Regions from separate parts of the Homo sapiens genome. Here regions 1 and 2 are each linked to region 3. Evidence: fine-mapped expression QTL. A gene starts in region 3. Each other region holds a variant in brackets. All regions are shown on one strand. Distances are between the middles of the regions.

Region 1 (7,191 bases), 160 kb after region 3:
CATCGGCCCTGCCTTCCTAGCAAACTGCTACTAGGCACTGAAAAGAGAATGCATGGGATATTTTAGTTTGGTGATCTTGTTCTCTTTAAATTAAAAGGTTCAAACTTAACAGCTTTCTCCTTAAACTCTGAATTCTCACAAGCTCCTTTGCGGAATCTTTGCTTCCCCCAAACATCTCCCACTAGTCTTAGTGATGGGACTTAAGTGAATAAGCCACAAAAAAGGTTTTCCAGCAATATTAGTGAATGGCCAACCCCTCTCATAGACTGTTAGATCTGGCAAGGACCTCAGAGTCCAACTCTCCCCACTTCACTGTAATGGATGAGAGATTTGAGGCCCAGAGTCACCTGGTGATTTGACCACAGTCATGCAGGCAATTGACTGCAGAGCTGGGCTTAGGTCTCAATTTCCAAGGCAGTGCTCTATCTACCCGTGCCTGCAAAATATGATGAATACCTGCTGTGTGCATGGCATTGCAGTAAAGCTCCAAGAGGACCAGAAATGGTCCCTGACCTTGAGTTGCTACAGTTTGTTTGAGGAGATGGGTCAGACCTAAAAAATTGATAACTAACAATAGAAAACAGTGGATACTAAATGCCAAGTAAAAGATTCAAGCAGCTAATGAGGGAAAGACCATTGTTGCAAGAGTGAGTGTGGAAGAATTACTGGAAAGAGGGTGGGGACCTGGGGTCAGCTCTAAAGAAAGGGTAAGACGTGAATAAACCAAGGGGATTGGGAATGGGATTCTAGATAGAAGGAATGGTGTGAACAAAGACTGGGAGGTAGGGACCTATACAGCATTTTGAGGAGCAATGAATGGATGAATGGATGAGTGTGGGTCAATCAGATTTCCAGTTTCCATAGGAAATGAAAGGAGATAAGTTTGAAGAGGCAGACTGAGGGTGTTGAATGGCTCTATTGTGAAGGCAGTGGGCAGCCATCGAAGGCGATTGAGCACAATAGTGAAGCATACACTGTGTTCTAGAAGACTCATGCGCCAGGGGTGGGGGTGAGGACTGGAGAAGGGGCGACTGAGAGGAGGCCTCAACTGTGCTGTTACCAGGGCAGAGGACAAGGAAGGCTGTGTAAGATGGTGTATTTGACCCTTTCCATGCCTCCATTCTTTCTTTCTCTTATGCATACATTTGGCACTCACTAAATGCTGGCCATGTTGTTTATAAGTTCCCAGCCTGTATTAGTTCGTTCTCACACTGCTATAAGGACATACCTGAGACTGGATAATTTATAGAGGAAAGAGGTTTAATGGACTCACAGTTCAGCATGGCTGGGGAGGCCTCACAATCATGGCAGAAGGCAAAGGAGGAGCAAAGGCATGTCTTACATGGCGGCAGGCAAAAGAGTGTGTGTAGGGGAACTGCCCTTTATAAAACCATTAGATCTCATGAGACTTATTCACTATTATGAGAACAGCACAGGAAAAACCTACCCCCGTGATTCAGTTACCTCCCACTGGGTCCCTCCCACAACACGTGGGGATTATGGGAGCTATAATTCAAGATGAGATTTGGGTGAGGACACAGCCAAACCATATCACAGCCTTTCTAAGGGCTTCCTTTACATGCTCAGGACAATATTATTCAGAGTGATGGATTCAGGAAATCCTAATTGAGAGAGAAACGTTTTTCAAACCTCTTGGATGTTTGGACTTTGTTTTCAAGTCTGACTGCTATGAAGGAGAAGGGATGGATTTGGAGTTGATAAAATGATATCTTCTTTATGAAATAGAAGTAAGGAGTATCTGTTTTCTCACCCAAGTATAGTCCCATCATATACAGAAAGGTTTCTGATTGGCTTATAAGTTGAAAGAAGTTGAAGTTGCTGGCGTTTGGTCTGTTTAAATCCAGAGTAATCCTTTTTCCTTTCCGTCCTCCAAAAACCATGTTTCCATTTATGACAATTGCCATCCTTACCAATGATTCCCTAAGTGCTAGGCACTGTGCTGGGTGCCTCACTCACTTTCTTGTTGTTTTCAGGGCTTTCAAGGTGAAGTGACTACATAGGGTCACACAGTTTGTAGGAGGTGGAGTCACAGTTTGACTCCAAAGCCTCTTGCCTATTCCCATCGTCCCTGAATGAGACTATGTCATGGTCTTAAAGACCACTCCTTCAAATGCATTTGGGTCTCCATTCCCAAGTTAAAAGTGGTGTTTCTTAAAATGGGTGAGGAGTTAAGTTCAGCTGATCCTCTCCTGATTCTTTATGAGTGCAGGATTCAAATAGCCAAAGAGAGGTCCGGCTTCATATGCTTTAAATTAAAGGCCAATAGGCTGTTGTGCTGGCTCGATAAGCACTGCTGCAAATGCTTCACAGCAGAGCTGGGCCTACATGGGAAGGCGTTCTCTTGGCTATGGAGACCATGATGACCCAGCCCAGTGGAGAGATGACTCATCAAGCCCAGGCAGCTGGCAGGCAGGAAAAATACCAACTCGAGCTTTGGGTGGCTTCATGGTCTCTCCAGGGACTGAGCAAGGCTGCCTTGTTGCCTCGGCAACTGCAGGATTAAATGCCAGTGATAGAGTTGTGGGCTCCTACAGTCACTTTCGGGAACTGCTCCTCAGTCAGCATCAGGGGTGCCACCCCTGCTAAATGGGACCGTCGTCTTTGCAGTTGTGAGTGAAAGATCAGAGGGGGGTTTTCTTCTTCTTTTTTTTTTTAATTGAAATGCTCCTAATCTCAGAACTGCCTTTTATTGTATCAGCTGCTCAAAAACCCAGTGTGTACAGTTGATTAATAACAATTTTCCTTTTTTGTGGTTATTATTTTTAATGCCAGCCAGGAGTGTGGGCTTGCCGACCTCTTTACAGCCCAATGATAAACACAGGTGATGGGGTTCAGTATTGTTATTGGCCATCACAAATAGCTCTGGCTTTCCATTAACCCAAAAGGCAGCTACTTACAATTCTGAGAGCTGGCTCAGGTCATGGGTATCTCTGACATAAAACCCACTGGAATCTGATACTGTGATTTCTGATCAAAATGCTCAGGGCTTAGCATTCTTTCAATCCAGCTGTGATATACTTTTGCCTTCAGCTCCTGTTCTGTTTTTAATTTGACTGGAAAGTTTTTGTTTGTGCTATTTAATGTAGTTGAAGGGTAAACAACATAGAAAGCACTAAGCTTATATAAAGAAATACTTTCCCAGCCTTGAGTTTACTCTTCTCTGGTCCAGGAGGCTGGCTCAGCCAAGCCATAGGTTTTTCCCTCCTCCCCGCCACCCCCCGCCCCAGGGCAGGTGCCAGTGTGGGCTCAGGGTAAGAATTTGATTTACGATATTCCCAAGTCAAGGGGCCTAGTCCTGGGATCACTGCACTGAGGACAGCTAACAGCAGGGACACATAGGATACTTCTGGGTTTATGTTGAAACCCATCCTTCTTGGGGCATTGTCCATAATACCACATAGTATTTCTTGTATAAGGCTCCACATGGTGGATTTACTTTAGAATTTCATGTCAGGCTGTCCTTTGAAGAACAAAAGGAAGCCTATTATGTTTGCCAAAAGCCTGGGTTTGCAAAGACTGAAGGAAATGGACTGCCTGCTCAGGTCACAGTAACTGTTAAGTTTTATGGCTACACATTTATTCCTTCCTGTTCTTCACTCTGATTTATTTTACATTTCCATTTTAATAGCCATCTTTTAAGGGGCTATGGTGGGGGATAAATAATTCCTTTTTTTGCCCCCCTTTGGAGAGTCACCATTATCCTGGGGCTCTCCAGGGGCCCTCCAGGGAGGTCTTGAACCTG[T/C]GGGGACCCTTGGGGATGCTGCCATGCTAAGTGCTGCTCTGCACAGGGAAGTCTGTTTCCTGGTGGGATCCAGATTTTTCAGACATTGGCACTGAGGGTGCAAGACTGTGGCCAGTGGCTGCTGCTTTATGTGGCAGGATTTGTCCTGAACCCCCAGGCTGGGCCCAGGGCTGCGTGACCACTTGGCCATCCTGGAATCCCTCCATGCGCTCTCTGCACTCTGCCTCACTCCACCATAGACACGTTCTCCTTCTGGGCTCCACAGTCCCGGTCTAAACTCTCCTTGTGGGTCTTCTTCCTTTATTGAGAGTCCTAGGTCCTACAGGTTTGCGAAGACACAACGGGGAGGGGAAAAAAGAGTGTATGAGTTTTTGTCAGAAAACCTAGGTTGGAATCCCAAAGCTGCTTCCACCTAACTCTGACTCAGAAGCTGTTTCTGGACCTCCCACCTGGAAACTCAGGGTGATAACATCTGCCTCGGAGAGTTCCCGCCCAGCGCCCAGCTTGAGGGGCTCTTGATTCTTGGTGTTTCCCCTCTGGGTCTCCTGGCCGGGAGCACAGCTGCAGAGCGATGCCTGCCTCTGCTCTGCTGGCCGTTTATTGTCTTCTGGTATTTTTCAGGCGCACACTCCACAGCAACTAGATTTCTTTGTCTCTCTACAAGCCTTCAGTTTTTCTTTATCCCTTCACTTTTCGGAAAATAATCTACCTTCCGTCCCTTTCTTGCCTCTACCTTCCCTTTGAGCTACAGGCTCCTGCCTTCCACCAAGCCCTGGAGGATCCTCTTCCTCTCCCCACCCACATTCTGACCCCAAGACAGGGCTGGATCCTGTCCCTCCACTTGCTGGGTGGCTGCTCTCCTGTGACACTCCCTTCTCGATGTCCACTGGTTGTGACTTTTCTCTCCTCTGTGGCTTCTCATTGACACCTAACAATAGGTGTGGGCATTTCTTGCACACCCTCGTGCCCCCTCCAGCCCTGGGTCATAGCTGCTGTCTTAGTCGCTGCTGGATTCCAGAGGAGAAGTGTGGTGTCTATTCCCACCTCTTCACCTCCAGCGCCTCCTCTGAGCTTTGCAGTCAGGCTCACCTCTCTGCAGACCCTTCCAGAAGCAAACTTGGTTCTTGTCCAGCCTGTGTGCTTTACCGGCAGTCCTTGCCCTTCTTGCCTTTTGGGATAGATCCTGGATTCTCCCTGCCTCCCCTGACATGGGGGGTTGGAGGGGATCCCCAGGGCACAGCTGCAGATCCTCCTTATTCTTTATATATTGCTCCTTGGTGGGCTCACCTGTTCTGTGGCTTCCACCGGCATCGCCCAGTTGGCCCCACATGCATCACCAGGAGGAATCTAAGCACAGATGGGGATGTTAACACTGCCTACCTCATTGGTGGTGGCCAGGAGTAAATGAGATAATACTATTCAAATCCGCAGGACTTGCTTTCCTAAGCACAATAAATCTGTGAGCAGCTGTCACAGTATGATTTTGGGTCCTGTGTGACTACTCTCTGTCTTCCTCTCCACCCAATCCATCGATTGCTTAACCTGCCCCCTCACCTCCCTCATATGGCTAATTCCTTCCAACACTGCCCTTCTCTTTCTTACCTCCTACTCTGTGTTACTGGTGGTCTGCCCCCTTCCGGTTTTGAAAGCTGCATTCCCTACCCTGCCCATTGTATTAGCCTGTTCTCATGCTGCTAATAAAGACATACCTGAGACTGGGCAATTTATAAATGTTTAGTTGACTCACAGTTCAGCATAGCTGGGGAGGCCTTATGATCATGGCTGAAGGTGAATGAGAAGCACAGTCATGTCTTACATGGCGGCAGGCAAAAGAGACCATGTGCAGGGGAATTTCCCTTTATAAAGCCATCAGATCTCATGAGAATTATTCACTGTCACAAGAACAGCATGGGAAAGACCCGCCCCCGTGATTCAGTTACCTCCCACTGGGTCCCTCCCATGACACTGGGGATTGTGGGAACTACAATTTAAGATGAGATTTGGGTGGGGACTCAGGCAAACCATATTACCCTTTTTTCTACCCTGTCTATCCCTGATCTCATTTAGGTTTCAGCTTACTGTCTGTGTCCTGGAAGCTTTTGCTGGCCCTCTGAATCTGGGCAGTCACCCAGTGCACCCACCCCAGCACACTGTCCTTTCCTGTCATAGTGACACTGACCTCTTATGCAGGGCTCGTTCATTTGTCCCCCACTAGGCTATATGGAGAGCGGGCACTTTCTGGGTCTCTTTGTCACAATGTCCTGCATAAGACACATCATGTCGTTTGAACAGCGAACAAACCCATCCTATCGTTCTGAGACTACCCTTGCCCAGCACACAAGCGTGTGCACTCGCAGACACATGCTTGCTCTCATTATGACAATGTGGGTTTTCCCCAGGGGAAACTCCTAATGGTTGAGAGACGGGGTGGCTGCTCTGCCTAAGGATGGAGGCAGGCGCCTCTGGCTTCCTCAGAAGGGTGCCACACAGTACCCTGAAGGGTAGAGGAGGCACCAGGTTGTGCTTTTATTGTATCATTGGCCAGCTCGGGGGCCCTTACAGCGTGTCTCATTCAATCAAGTTCCTTGCTTAGGAGCCTGTATCCCAGAAGTTAGATCAACAAGGTCACAGGTGAGGGACAGACAGAGCCAGCAGGACAAGTTAGGCCACTGCTGTTTTTCTCTGTAATTGTTTCCCATTGCAGTGGAAATTTAACCATGTCCTCAGTGAAGTGCTGGGCCCTGCCCTGGGCACATGAACAGAACGGCTGCCCCTGGGAGGCACGTCTGTCCTCAGTCCCGTGGCCCAGCTGTTCTGCTGACCTCCATGTGTGAGGTGTCAGTGGCTGGTTCAGAAACCACCTTGGGAGCAGGGCCGTGAGCCTGCATTCATTCCCCTTGCACTTTGTGCTGGGGTAACAGTAACAGCAATTGTTCTGGTGCCCTCTTTGCAGTGTGTGATTCGTGAGGGCCCTGGGGCCCAGCAGAGTGGGAGCGGGCCTGAGTTGGGTGGACGTGCCCTGCCTGCTGGTCCTGGCCACTGCTGGCATTTTTCCCTTCTCTATGCAAGATGCCCTAAGGAGGCTGGACTGCCCTTCTGTGCCCGGATGTTTATGCTACAGCTGCATTTGAACTCTAGGCCTATTGGAATCCTTTTCACTTAGATGGTCCAGAGACAGAGCCATGAAGTAATGGGCAGTGCAGGGGCTCAGCCTGTCTCTAGCCCTGCTCCTGAGGTTACTTGCATAACCGCTGCCGTAGGCCTCAGTTTCCTCTGCTGAACATTCTGAACCTCCATGATTTAGATGCCTGCCAGTTAGGAATTTTAAAATGTGAGCATTTTCTTTGGACCACCTGGTACCCCCTCACCTAGGGGCAGAGGCCCAGCTTCCCCCTGTGGTGTTGGAGGCCTTTGTGTCCCAACCCTGC
Region 2 (7,191 bases), 110 kb after region 3:
GAATCAGTTTCTCGTTTCATTGGGTTTTTTTTTTTCTATTTTTTTTATGTTTTCAGTTTCATTGATTTCTGTTCTTTATTATTTCTTTCCTTCTGCTTGCTTTGGGTTTATATTGCTCTTCCTTTTCCAGATTCTTGAGGTAGGAGCTTCGATTATTGAATTCAGACTTCCTTTTTTCTAGTATCAACATTTAATGCCATATATTTTATTTTAATTTCCATTCAGGTCAGTGTGTGTTTAAAACAAAATTTTCTTGAGGCTTGCTCTTTGACCCATGGATTACTTAGAAGTGTGTTGTTTAATTTCTAAGTGCTTGGGTGTTTGCCTGTTGTCTAGTTCGAGTCCATTTTGGTTAGAAAACCAGTCTGTATGATTTCAGTCCTTTTACATTTGTTGAGGTTTGTTTTATGGCTCAGGATATGGTTTATCTTGGTATATATTCTTGAAAAGATTGTATATTTTGCTAGAAAGAGATTTCAAAAATAGTAAATATGAATCAACCTGAAGGATAAAAATAAATGATTTTTCTTTCCTTTGGCAATAGAAATATTGTTACTAGTTGGACAAGTTATCTTTATTCACAGCCTGAGTTATACAAAAAATAGGAATACATCCTTTTTGGTGGTTTACAAATCTAATTATATTTTCATGTTAAAAGTAAGTGGTGGAGGATATGTGAAGTGTCATAGTATTTGCCACAGAGGCTTTTTCCCATTCAAATTGTAATTGTGTGGAATTTTTTATTTTGTAGTTGCTTTAGTAAAAACAAATGATAGAAAAAGCTTGCTTTAAATTAAATTGAACAATGCATAAGAGTATAGAGTAGAAGAAAATATATTTTGGATCATACTTTTGACACCACCTTTTTCCTCTCTCACAATACATTTGGAGGATCTTTTCAGATAGACGTACATAGAATGTCCTGTATGCCATTCTTTGATGGCAGCAGCACAGCTCTCCAGATGCTGATTTAAAAGGAGTTTAGCCACGTGCCATTTCTTTCTTCTGGTGCCCAGTCTCACTAACCTCTCCTAATAGTCTAGCATTGGCCCCTAGAGAAATTCAAAGGTCTGCCAAGGTAAGTCAGCAAACCAGTCAAGGGCCAGGAAGTCAGGAATGTGTGAGTAGCTGAGTCAGGGGTCTGGAATCAGAAGTGAGGGTGAGTCAGGAGCAGGGCCCGGGCTGACTCAGGCAGGCTGAGGTGGTGACCTGTGGAATCAGCTGCCTTACTGGTGCTCCAGGGCAGGGGCAGGCTCACCATGCTGAGGCCTGAAACTTCACTTCTTTCAGGGATCAGCTAATAGATGTGGTCAAGGAATTTGGTCCCAGTCAACCTTCCCTGCTTCTTCTGTGTTAGGTCATCTGTCAGAAAATGTTAACCAAACTTTAGGGCCACATGACTTTGTTTCTCTTTGTGGAAATGGGAATGATATCACTGCAAAGAGTCAGGGAAGAGGTCGTGGGGGGAAAGGAAGAGGGGGTCAAATAAATCAGCGAGAAAGAGAGAAACAGTTGGAAAGCCAGACAGATACTGGGCGCTTCTGCAAGAGTTATAAACTGTTCTTATCACCAAATCTGGTCCATTCTGTCACTCACATGAGTCCGTCCAGTCTTCCTCTCTCTTATTCCCAAAATTTTAGCCTTTTAACTGAAGTCCCTCCTCACAGCTGTGGATTGATTGGAGAGAATGAGTGAGAACAGCTTGTCAAGGGTGACCTTCAGCTTTTACGTTAGGTGACTGGTGAATATTGGAGGCATTGAGAAGGAACAGAGGAGGTCCATGTCTTGGAGTGGTAAGTGGGATGAGGACTTCCATTTTGTGCATGTTGAATCTGACCGTGTTGAGTTTGAGGCATCTGTGGGACACCCAAAGAGGGGTATCTGGCACAAGAGAAAGGCTAGGCTGAAGCTACTGATTTTGGTTGGGCCCAACAGCTGCTTGCAATAGTTGCATGCTCCTGAGGGGGAGGCTGTTTGCATTCTGTCCTTGTTTTACATTTCCATTGGGAGTGGTGTTTTAGAACTTCTTACAGATGTCACAATAATTGTAGACCTGGCCCTACCAGCCATGCTTGAGGTATTATGTAGATTATCTACTTCTTTGCTGCTAGTTTTCCCAGCCCAGTTCAACTATTTCCTGATGCAAATGAAGCTTCTAAGTGTACAAACTTAAAATACCTTTATTACCAGTGCAACCACACTAAACTCTAATTGCCCAGCAACTAGAAAGACTAGGAGTAGACAGTTTATTGTATGTGTGCATTTTGATGGAGGGAAGAGATGAATATTTGCAAATTCATATTATGAAGAACAAGAGTACTTCTCCTTGGGAGATGGGTTTTTCCAAGATGGTAAATGAGTTGCAAAGAACAACTTTTTCTTTCTTTTCTTGAGCTTATTCAACTTTTTTTTTAAAGCTTATTTTGACTTCAGCCAACATTACTTATTTTCAGGTATACAGAGTCAAAAAAAGGTAAAAGAGGAGGATTGGTTTATTGCTGTTTTTCTGGGCAAAAGTGATACTTAGTGGGACCATTTGGCCAGTACTGACATACTGGGTTAGGATACATATTTTTCTCAAAAGCATTTTGAGGAATTCTTAAGGGTTGGCATTCTCTGATATTGGTAATAATATAAGTGTCATTGGTTGTTACCAAATGAATCTATATACTCAGATTTTCCTTTTGTTCAGGTTATTTTATATTTTAAAAAGATCCATGTTGAGGCAGATATTTATACAGAACCAAGTGATTAGAATTGTGATGAGTTGCTAGCTTTGTAGATTGTGCTGTTATTGAGAACTTTGCCTTTACTGGTTTTTTACTTCTCTTAATGTACAGATCTGAGAAACAGAGTTGCTGTAAAAGTTCAAATGCTGCCAGATAGGCTAAGTGGGGAGAAAAAAACCTTTAGATTACCTCTCTCAAAGAGAGTCACCAATATTCTACAGTCTCTGGATATAGTTTTCGAGTATACAGAGGGTACAAGGTTTTGCATGGACGGACGTTTTCATTTCTTTGGCGTGTATACCTGGGAGTAGAGTTGCTGGGTCATAAAATAACTGAGGAATTCCCAAAATGTTTTCCAAAGTGACAGAACCATTTCTCATTCCCCTAGTAATGCCTGAGGGTCTTCATTTCTCCACATCCTCTCCCACACTTGTTATTATCTGCCTTTTTTATGATAGCCATCTTCGTGGGTGTGAAATGGTATTTCATCGTGGCTTTGATTTGCATTTCTCTGATAACTAATGATATCAAGTATCTTTTCATGTGCTTATTGGCCGTTTGTATGTCTTCTTTGGAGAGCTATCTGTTCAGATTCTCTGCCTATTTTAAAATTGGGTTGTCTTTTTATTACTGAGTTGTAATGGTTCTTTATATATTCTGGATATCAGTCTCTTAGTACATATTTAATTTGCAAAATTTTCTCCCCTTCTTCAGATTGTCTTTTCACTTTTTAAATGCTATCCTTTGAAGCGCAAAGATTTTTAATTTTCATGATGTCCAGTTTACTCTTTTTTCTGTTGGTACTTGTGTTGTATCTAAGAAACCATTTCCTCATCCAAGGTCATGAAGACCTTCTCTTCTTCTGCAGTCGAGTGAGAAGTGAGCAGAACTGGTGTAGGGACTGCTTCTACTGAAGGGGGTGCAAGAGAGAAGACTTAGCCATGTCATCCTTGATCATAAAGGTGATCAACACTGAGAAAGCCCAAGGGTACACTGGTCCCTTCAGTCAAGCTGCATTAGTTGACGGGATCCTTTACATTTCAGGAGAGCTAGGCATGAACCTTTCGAGTGCACAGCTTGTGCCAAGAGTGGGTAACAGAAGAAGCTAAACAGGCCCTTAAGAACATGGGTGATATTTTGAAAGCTGCAGGCTGTGACTTCACTAATGTGGCAAAAACAACTGTTTGGCTAGCTGACACAAATGACTTCCGGGCTGTCAATGTAATCTACAAACAGTATTTTAAGAGTGGTTTTTCTACTAGAGCTGCTTACCATGTTGCTGCTTTACCCAAAGGAGGCCAGGTTGAAATTGAAGCAGTAGCTGTTCAAGGACCTCTCACAACAGCCTGTCTATAAGTGGGCCCAGTGCTGTCTAGTCCGGAATTTTTAACGTCTTCATTGTCACA[G/T]TTGATATAACATCTTAATTAACATCTTGATTTTTATAATTGATGAAAAGTGTAAGTTTGACTAAAGTATCCAAAGTTATGGAAATACTATATAATAGAATTAAACATGAATTGAAGGTTAGATGGTGAATCCAGTTACTGATGTTACAAATTACACTTATGCACACCCATATCACTGAATGTAGGAAAGAGATACTCATTACATAGTTACTCAAATAACAGGGAAATAACATGTAGGAAAGATGAGTTGTTGTTCCTGAGAAATAATCAAGAGCATACCTAATTCCAATAAATTGAGTGATGTCATATATTTAGTTATCATGTCAGGTATGTGATTCTGGTAATTCTGCTTTTACTAGTTTAAAATTAAAATATTTAAATTTGAATGGTAGGGGTAAAGAAATAGAAAATGGACCAAAACTTTATATAGATAATATTTTTCTAATGGATAGAAAATAGACATGCAGATTTAAGCTTTACTCTTTTTCTAAGAATTTAATAGTTTTAGCTCTTACATTTAAGTCTATGACTCATTTTGAATTAAATTTTGAACATAGTATGAGGTAGGAGTCTATTTTATTCTTTTGCATGTAGATATTAGTTGTCCCATCACTGTTGGTTGAAGAGACGATTCTTGCCTCATTGAATTGTCTTAGCACTATTCTGTTCCTCTTAAGTTTTATTTTCCAGGCTCCCTACCATTCAAGTGGTTTCCCAGACATTAGTTTTGGTGCTGAAGCTTGGATATTAAAGCATCTGCTCAAAAGAGACTGTTTAGACCAGAAGTGACTGAGATACTACTAACTATTAAGTTCAAGTTAGGATTACTGCCATTGTAGGTAGATGAGAGGTTGTGAGAGAAATTAGAGAGATTGTGAGGAAAATTAAGCTGTTACTAGAAAAATAAAAACAGTAGCGTTTTCTCTGGATGTCTGGAGGTTGGGGAAGCATATTTTCAACCCTGCTTTGTGTGCAGCCTTACTGATGGTAACTTGGTCACCTGGAGAGATTTCGTGACAGACACAATTTCTCTACTGTAGACTGGACTTTTACACATGGACAACAGTAGTTACTTGAAATAGTGAAAAAAAATGAAAATAAGCAATAAAAATCAGGAATTCTCATAGTGGCTGTGTTACTCTGCTATTAAAAAGCTGTGTAACCTCAGGCAACTGCTCCAACCTTGCTTTATCTTATATTAAATGGGGATACTGGATTTATGACCTCTGGCTCTCTCTGGCATTAAAGTTCTATGACGTTGATGCATTTGAAGATGATGTTAACGTGGGCAGGCTTTGATGTTTAGAAACCACATTATAAAAACCTACCTAGCAGTGCCAGAAAGTAAGGAAGTGCTCCAAACACACACACACACGCACGCACGCGTGCGTGTGCACTCACATTGATGAGGTATGGCACAGGGACACAGGAACGAAATACAGAAGCTGCCGGTGGCCAAAGTCACAAAATAAGGTAGTATTGGATTATGACCCCAAAATAAAATAAATGCTCATGGTGTTCACACTGATGTAACAAGTAAATGAATACATAAATGGGGAATAATAGAGGACTCTACCTTCTGGAAGAGTTCCAAATAATTTATTTAGATATATTGCCTTCAAGTAGGTAGGGGCTCACACCCCATTCTTGAAGTTGGGCTGCACATAGTGAATTCCTTCCAGAGTGTACAGGATGAAGTGGGGGAGAAAAGAGTCACTTTTTCTGGTGGACTGGGGAGTCAGTAGAGAAACCTGATAAACATTACGTCAGCCACGTGATCAATTTCAGCATCAATCACATTGATAGTATCTACCCTTGATATGATATGCTGAAAATGACACTTTACCTTCATGGTCTTTCTACCCCAAACATCAGACAAATTCCAATTGAGGAACATCCTGCAAATATACCTTGCGCAGTACTCCTCAAACTGTTACAGTCATCAAAACCAGGGAGTCTGAGGAGCCGTCACAGCCAAGAGGAGCCTGAGGAGCTATGATGACCGAATGTGATGGAGTATCCTGAGTGGGATCAAGAGTCAGAAAAGGATGTTAGGTAAAAACTAAGGAAAGCTGAATAAAGTATGGACTTTGGTTAATAATAATAGATCAGGATTAGTTCATTCATTATGACACATGTACCATGTTCGTGTAAGATGCAGTAACAGGGGAAGCCGAGTGTGGGATGAAAGGGAATTTTGTATTATTTTAGCAGTTTTTCTATAATCTAAAGCTTTTCTATAGATAATTTTTCGTTTAGAAAAACCTACCTGGGGGAATATTCTAACACCCAGTTTGGTGCCTCTTCTGTGAAGTCATCCTCAAGCAGCCTCCTTCCCACAGTGCCACTGCTTTCTCCGTGGCACCAGTTGCATCTCTGTTCTGCCACTGGCACTGCAGTTAACTTCCTCTCTTGTCTGCCCTGCAAGGCTGTGAGCTCTTCATTCATCTTTATGCACAGCTTCTGGCACACAAGACGCACTCACATGTTTGTTAGCTGATACAATGAAAGAATGAGCCCTAGAACATATGTTTCCTGAATCCACTACATGTACCACTTTTTGCTTTGAGTCCCTGTACTCGAAGATGCTCACATTGTAGCTAAGAGGCAGAATAGTAACGGGATAATGATGCCCATGATGTAGGAAGAACAGATGAATCTCCGTTATAGAAGAGTTCCAAATAATTTAGGAAGAGAAAGAAATGCCTACTCTCTCTACTTTAGAGAACAGCATAAGTTTTGCAATGAGAATGTGTCAGAAAAGTGCTTTAAAAATATGTTCATCCCAAGAAAGATGCAAATAGTACTGGGACCAACTCCCCTCCTCCTCCTCCTTCCTGCAAACATACCTGGCCCAGTATATGTAACTCCTGAAACTGTTACGGTCATCAAAACCAGGGAAAGTCTGAGGAGCTGTCACAGCCAAGAGGAGCCTGAGGAGCAATGATGACTGAATGTAATGTGGTATCCTGAATGGGATCAAGAGCTGGAAAAGGACGTTAGGTAAAAACTAAGGAAAGCTCACTTCCAGATATTTCCAGTCAGAGACTTTATTA
Region 3 (7,191 bases):
CACCCTCCACATGGATGCTGCCCAGAGACACTCCTCCACTTCCCAGCTGCCTGCTGGGGCATTTCCACTGAAAAGTTCCACCATTACTTCATGCTCCATGGAACCTTCAGGAGCTCTCCTGAAAAGCAGCCTCTTTCCATATTGTTCCTATTTCTGATGCTCCAAGGCACCCAGCCTGGAAGCCTCAGCTTTGCCTTTGCCAGTTCCACTCCCTCATTGCACACATCTGGTCACCAAGACATCTGGTCTTCCAAACAAGAGCCCTTCCCTTCCCTTTTCCCTTCCCTTCCCTTCCCTTTTCCCTTCCCTTCCCCTTTTCCTTCCCTGTGCTTCCCTTCCCCTTCTCCTTCCCTTCCCCTTCTCCTGCCTTCCCTCCCTCCCTCCTTTCTCTTTTTCTTCCCTTCCCTTTTTCCTTCCCTTCCTTTTCCCTCCCTTCCCCGTTTCCTTCCCTTCCCTTCCCTTTTTCCTTCCCTTCCCCTTTTTCTTCCCTTCCCCTTTTCCTTACCTTCTGCTTTTCCTTCCCTTCCCCTTCTCTCTCTCCTTCCTTCCTTCATTAGTTCCTTCCTTCCTTCCTTCCCTCCCTCCCTTCCTTCCTTCTCTCCCTCCCTCCCTCCCTCTCTCCTTTCTCTCTTTCTTTTCTTTTCTTTCTTTTTTTGAGACAATTTCATTCTGTTGCCCAGGCTGGAGTCCACTGGGGCAGTCACAGCTCACTGCAACCTCAACCTCCCAGGATCAGTTGATCCTCCCACCTCAGCCTCCTGAGTAGCTGGAACTACAGGCACATGCTACCATGCCTGGCTAATTTGTGTGTGTGTGTGTGTGTGTGTGTGTGTGTGTGTGTGTGTGTGTGTGTGTGTATGCGCTTTTTTTCTTTTTCTTTTTCTTTTTTTTTTGGTAGAGACAGTTTTCGCCATGTTGCCCAGGCTGGTCTTGAATTCCTGTGCTCAGGTGATCCACTGCCTTGGCCTCCCAAAGTGTTGGGATTACAGGCATAAGCCACTGCACCCAGTTGGAAAATTCTTTCCTGTCCCTCCCTGCTGCAACTCCCCATCTACCCCATGACTCTGCTGGTTCCTAGGCCATGGGTCTCCCCCATCTGGTTCCCAGGGCCATTTAGGTGCCCTCTATTGCATGCAGGTTCCATTCTAGTCATTTTGAGGTGTCCAAGTACTGTTTGGTTGCCTTGAGCCCCCTCACTTTGGCATTTGATGCCTTTTCCACCCTCTGACCCCATCCACCTTTCTAGTATGCCTCATCCCATTTTCTAGCATGTGTGTCCTGCCCCAGGCAGCCTCTGCTCAGGAAAGCTGGTCCACCCTCTGGGCACTGTTCACACACCCCATCACCTTGGCTGTCTTCCCCAACCTAGACCTGCTAACTCTGGAATAGTGCAATACCGCTTCCTCCAAAAAGACTCCCTTGACCATGCTGCCCACTTGGGATAAGTAGCATCTTTTTTTTTTTTTCTTTCTTTCCTGGCAATGAATCACTATTATTAGGTCGGAGCAAAAGTAACTGTGGCTTTTCCCATTGAAAGTAATAGCAAAACTGCAATTACTTTTGCACCAACCTATTACTTTTTCAAGTCCTTTTATATTGTTTTGAATTGTTAAGTTTTCAAGGGTCTATTTCATTCAATATGTCAGCAAACATGTATTAAGTACAGGTTGGGCAGGGCGCAGTGGCTCACATCTGTAATCCCAGCACTTTGGGAGGCCGAGGCGGGTAGATTACTTAAGGTCAGGAGTTCGAGACCAGCCTGACCAACGTGGTGAAACCCCGTCTCTACTAAAAACACAAAAATTAGCCGCGCGTAGTGGTGGCCACCTGTAGTCCCAGCTACTCGGGAGGCTGAGGCACGAGAATCGCTTGAACCCGGGAGGCAGAGGCAATGAGCCGAGATCGCGCTACTGCACTCCAGCCTGGGCAAAACAGCAAGACTCCATCTCCAAAAAAAAAAAAAAAAAAAAAAAGTACAGGTTGTTGTTTTCTCAGGGAATCCTCATAGCTGGTGAAGTATCCAGCTTTTCATTTTACGGATGAGTGAACTGGGGTTTAGAACTGATAACATTTTGCCCAAGTTCTCACAGCTAGCGAGAGGCGTGCCGCAGTTTATCGTGGGGTGGGTCTAAACAAGGACCTAAAAACTGTATTCGAATCCCAGCCCTACTACCGCCAGCTGTGTGACCTTACGAGGCGCCTCACTTTACTGTTTCTCCAACAGAGACAGACATTTCTTGTTACCGCGCAAGTGGGATAACCTCCCCACCAGTGTCTAGACACAGTAGGTGCTCAATAAATAGGTGTGGGTTTGCGGTGGCAGAAGAGCGCTATCCCTTAAGTTTCTGACAGTGAGGGGGAAAAAGGCTAAGCAGGGAAAGGAAGGGAAAGGGGTAAACTGAGCTCGGCGCAGTCGAGAGCGCGAAATAGGGAGGGCTTCCTGCAGGCCAGGAATTTGGAGAGGCCGAGGCTGGGAGAAGAAAAATGCCCGGTGACGGCGGAGGGGAGGTGGAAGGACGAACGGCTCCGGGAAGGGGTGAGGTCTAAGCGCAGCCCCGGGCCCAGCGGAGCCGAGGGCGGGTGGTGCGGGGGTTCCTGGGTAGGTTCGTCCCGACGGGCCGCGGGCGGATTGAAGGGAGGGTTGGGCCCGCCGGCAGCCCCGGCGGGTCCAGGCCCCCGGCCAGCCCCTGCCCCTCCTCCCAGGAGGGCGGGCGGCGACTGCGGGGCGGGGCGCGGGCTCGCTCGGCCTCCCGGCGGCGCCGCGGCCCTTGCACTCCGGCCGGGCTCTGCTGGCTGCGGCGGGAGCTGGACGCGGGAGGAGGCGGCGGCGGCGGTGAGTGAGCTCCGGGCTGGAGCGGGGCGGGGTGTGCGCCGGCAGCCGGGTTTCGGGGTGCTAGGGGCCGCCCAGGGCGGCGGGACCCCCAGGGGTTCGGGCTCAGCCAGGTGCACTGTGCTCAGTCCGCGCGTCCACTCTCGGTGACCCGCGCCGCGCGTGTCCTGGGGCTCGAAGATGCGACCCGGACTCCCGCGCCGCGCCCCGCCGAGGGCAGGCGCAGAACAGATGCGGGCGATCCCTGGGGAACCCGCTTCGGGGCGGGGTGGGAGGGAGGAGGCCCTGCAGAACCTCCCTTTAGTGAAGAGGGACTTTCTGCCTTCGCACCCCTGCCTGGACCCTCCGGCTCTAGTGACAGCTGGGAGAGACTCACACGAAGCAGTTTCTGACCTATCCTGTCGTACACAAGTCCTCGGCGTGCTCGGCCGGACCATCCCCTGGAAAGAAAGGGGCGTGTGACCTTTCTCTCCCCGATCCTCCAGACCACTGCGCCGCCCAGGGAGGTCATCCCCGAGAGAGCCCCCGCCTCACTCGGAGCACACATTCTAGCTCTCCCCGGGACTTTTCCAAGTTGCATCACTGTTTGGCCTCTAGACAGGTACTTGGCTGTCATGTTGGAGTTAGTTACACAGGATTTTTGAAACTTTGTATATTTGCTTTGTGTGTTCTTCACCCTAAGGCCGCTGCCCTCCCGACTCTGCTTATGCCGCTCAAAACGTTGCTCAAAGCTCGCTGGGAATGCTTTTGCGGGCATTGGTTCTCAAACTTGGCCCCACATCTGGAGAGTTTTAAAAAATACTGGTGCCTGTGTCCCACTCCCAGAGATCTGGATTCGGCTTGCCTGGGTTGCAGCCTGGACAATGGAATTTTTAAGACGCCGCAGGTGATTCTAATGTGCAGGCAAGTTTGAAAACCTCTGCTTTGAGAGTTGCTCCCACCAGCCACTCTTCGGACGGCTCAAGATCAGTCCTGATCTAGAACTCATCTCAGGTCCTCATAGCTCTTCCCTAATCCACCTCTCCACCTGAAGAACCTGTTGATTGGTGCTTTCCAACTTTAGACAGTAGATGGTGCCTTTACTGAAGATCCCTTTGTTTCTACCTCTCTGTTTACAGTCAATACTGCCAGGGCACTTTCTGCCAAGGAGGTGGGAGTGTAGGCATTAGAACCGAGCAGTCCTTGTCAGGGTCAAGGTTATAATACAGGGTTGTCCTATTCAGGGAAAACCAAGTGATAATTTGACTTGTCATATTCGGGAATGATTTCAGATTAAAAGGAGAAAAAATACTTTAGGGTTTGGTCAGCTTTTGGAGACCCTCCGGAGACTCCCCCACGTAGATAATGGAGTTGCATAAATGTGGAGAATTTTCCTTCAAAAAGCCAAAGCTAACAACATCCTTAAGGTTTTGTGGTTGATATTTGTGTTAACATAAGTCCATTTTTGTAGATTAAACTTATTCTGGAAGTATGATGAAGCCCTGCAGACAGAACACAGTGTATAACATGGCACATCTGAGATGACACCTGAGACACCTGTCACATGGTCTTAAAAATGATAGAGAAGTAGGACTAAGGAAAATGTAACCATGCTTATATTGGCTAAATTAGGTCATATATTTTATCAAGAAAATGTGTTTTCACTGCCCTTTTTAGTAATGTGATAGTCTCCGGGGATCTTGGTTAATTTACTTTTGTACCCCAAATATGATGTTTGCATTAAAATTTCCACCCTGATGTTGCTACCTGACCACAAATCAGTGGTTTTAAGTTTTTCTTAGGGGGTGGCCCTCTATGTGTTTTTTTTTTTTTTTTTTTTTTTTTTTTTTTTTTTGAGACAGAGTTTTGCTCTTGTCGCCCAGGCTGGAGTGCAATGGTGCAATCTCAGCTTACGGCAGCCTCGGCCTCCCTGGTTCAAATGATTCTCCTGCCTCAGCCTCCCAAGTAGCTGGGATTACAGGCACCCGCTACCATGCTCGGCTACTTTTTTGTATTTTTAGTAGAGACAGGGTTTCGCCATGTTGTCCAGGCTGTTCTCAAACTCCTGACCTCAGGTGATCTGCCCACCTCGGCCTCTCAAAGTGCTGGGATTACAGGCATGAGCCACCGTGCCCCGCCTGTATTTTTATTAACAGTGGGATGACATCCTTCCAAGAATGCCTTGCTGAAGTGAAAGAACATTTACATTCATTTCTAGCTGCTAATGTAAGTCCAAAGAACATTCATTTTGAAAAATACAAAAATGACATAATTTTGCCCACTTGGTTTTCTCGCTTTTCCCCAACTTCCACGACCATGCTCTGCTGCTACTACTGTATTCACTTGCTGGAGGTGTGCACCCTGTGGGAGCCGTCTTCATTGTCTTGGCTTTGGCTTGAAATGGAGGTTACATGCAGCGCATTGTCTTACAGGGTGTCCCCTGACCCGAATCATCACCCTTTGGGGAGCAAGACTATATGGAAAGTGTTTTCCTACTGTTTTTTTTGTGTGTGTGTGTGTGAGTGAGTGAGACCATGCCAACAAAATGAAGCCATATTATTAAATGGTTTGTTAACTTCCAAATCTTGTCTCAATTGGGAAAAGAAAAATGCTTATTCGAGGATGCTGTTGAATTCATGGTGTCTGAAAAGTCACCCCTGAACAGCAATAGTTACACTGTGAATATAATAATACACTCTACCCCCCCAAAAAGAAAAGTTTATGTAAATGTGGGCCTAAGCACATTTATTGCAATTTCTCACTTTGGAGTAGCAGCTCTAATATCCTAAAGTGATTAGAAGAAAGTAAGTGAAGAAAAATATGAAGAAAGGGTTAGTGAGATACTTTTTCATTTAGGGAAAGGGGATACAGCAACTAGAAAAGGCCTTGGGTTTGTGTTAAGAATTTATTGCCCTGGTGGCTTCCTTTTTTTCTTTGTTTAATTTGCTTGTGCTGATGGGTGAGGGAGAGTTAAAGAAATTTAATGGCCTCCTAACTCTCTTTCCCCGTGAAACCCATTTATCTAAGAGATGCCATTGGCCTTTTAAAAATATCCAACTGATTTTATGCTTTTCCTTTCTTTTCATCTTCTGATCTCGGCACTAAAGGGCGGTGGCATGGCTGAGAGGTTGGCATCAGAGCAGGAAAACAAAGTTCAAGGGGAAACCAAAAATTGGGTAATTTTCTCTGAATGACCAAGTGCTTACTTTTTTCAGGCATGTGACATTGCTGTTATCAAGAAACCAGTTATGACATGAAAATCCTGAAAATGGAAAAGGAAAAAAGAAAAAAAAAGGGAATGGGGTGGGGGATGGAAATAGCACCAGGGTTGACTGACCTTTACCGAGGAGGGAAGGCTTAGTGTTTTCAGCCTGGTGTCCCCCGTGTCCCGATTGCAGCCCCCTGTACTTCTCTCCTCATGCACCCTCCTGCATCCCTCAAGCCAATATCCTTGGGGGAGATAGTGCTTCATCTTAAATTCACACTAAGGTGTCTTTTTGTTTTTGTTATTTGAGACTCTGCTCTGTCACCCAGGCTGGAGTGCAGTGATGTGATCTCAGCTCACTGCAACCTCCGCCTCCCGGGTTAAAGCAATCCTCCCTGCCTCAGCCTCCTGAGTAGCTGGAATTACAGGCATGCGCCACCATACCCCGCTTATTTTTGTATTTTTAGTAGAGATGGGGTTTCACCATGTTGGCCAGGCTGGTCTCGAACTCCTGACCTCAGGTGATCCACCTGCCTCGGCCTCCCAAAGTGCTCCGATTACAGGCATGAGCCACTGTGCCCAGCTGTTAGTAGCCCCTGTTACTAGCAAAAGCTATGTATTACCCAGAGTTGTTGGTAAACAGGATAAGGTTCCTGCCTTAAGGGGCCTGAGTCAGGTGGGGATGTAAACCCTGGGTTGCAATAAGTTAGGAACTTTTCTAATCAAGAGGAACACAGTGGCCCGTGGGGTACTGTGGGGCACCTGGCTAGCCTCGCCTGGGTAGATGCCTCCTCAATTCATTGGCACAGGAGGCATAAGACATGCTTTACTTGGGTTTACATTAAAGCTTATTCTATTAGGCCCGTACCCCAAATGACTGATTTTGGAAATGTCCGACTCCAGGAGCGAGAAGGGTGCAGGTATCCATCATGCAAAGGGGAGGTGGGAGGTGGAGGAAGAGAACAGATTCTGGCAGGTGTCTTTTGCTTCTGGAGTCTACTGAACAGGGGTACTTCCTGGGAGTGGGAAGCTCATGGAGAATGTGGCTGGATCCATTTTTGGCACATTAGTAACTGGTAAAGTAAGCTTAGTAGCGGCTACCTCCGCAACAGAGCTGAAAGGAGAATGCAAAGTGCAGTGTGAAAGCCGCAGCTGCAGCACTTTTTGGAGCAAGTGG

Which allele goes with the higher level. Alleles are on the strand shown, and positions count from the first base shown. SD is a standard deviation of normalised expression in the study named. Not every link is listed here.
For the expression in tibial nerve of the gene that starts at base 2,771 in region 3, G is the low allele of the variant in region 2 and T is the other (small effect, 0.17 SD a copy in GTEx).

The links. PIP is the estimated chance that this variant, and not a neighbour inherited with it, causes the effect. A credible set is the group of variants that fine-mapping cannot tell apart.
Region 1: its variant is the best candidate, but not a certain one, in a credible set for the expression of CGNL1 in lung (TOPMed, PIP 0.62).
Region 2: its variant is the best candidate, but not a certain one, in a credible set for the expression of CGNL1 in tibial nerve (GTEx, PIP 0.53).

What each region holds. Positions count from the first base shown.
Region 1 is chr15:57,534,779-57,541,969 of GRCh38, forward strand. The region is part of intron 14 of CGNL1 (cingulin like 1); the gene reads left to right. Among named protein-coding and RNA genes, the nearest start is that of GCOM1, 54 kb to the right of the region's middle. RefSeq lists enhancers at 5,678-6,017, 6,158-6,477. The variant T/C (reference allele first, on the strand shown) is at 3,764.
Region 2 is chr15:57,484,902-57,492,092 of GRCh38, forward strand. The region is part of intron 8 of CGNL1 (cingulin like 1); the gene reads left to right. It also overlaps the pseudogene RIDAP3. Among named protein-coding and RNA genes, the nearest start is that of GCOM1, 100 kb to the right of the region's middle. RefSeq lists an enhancer at 551-1,750. The variant G/T (reference allele first, on the strand shown) is at 4,136.
Region 3 is chr15:57,373,735-57,380,925 of GRCh38, forward strand. CGNL1 (cingulin like 1) reads left to right here and starts at 2,771. Exons shown (of 19, transcript NM_032866.5): 1 at 2,771-2,833.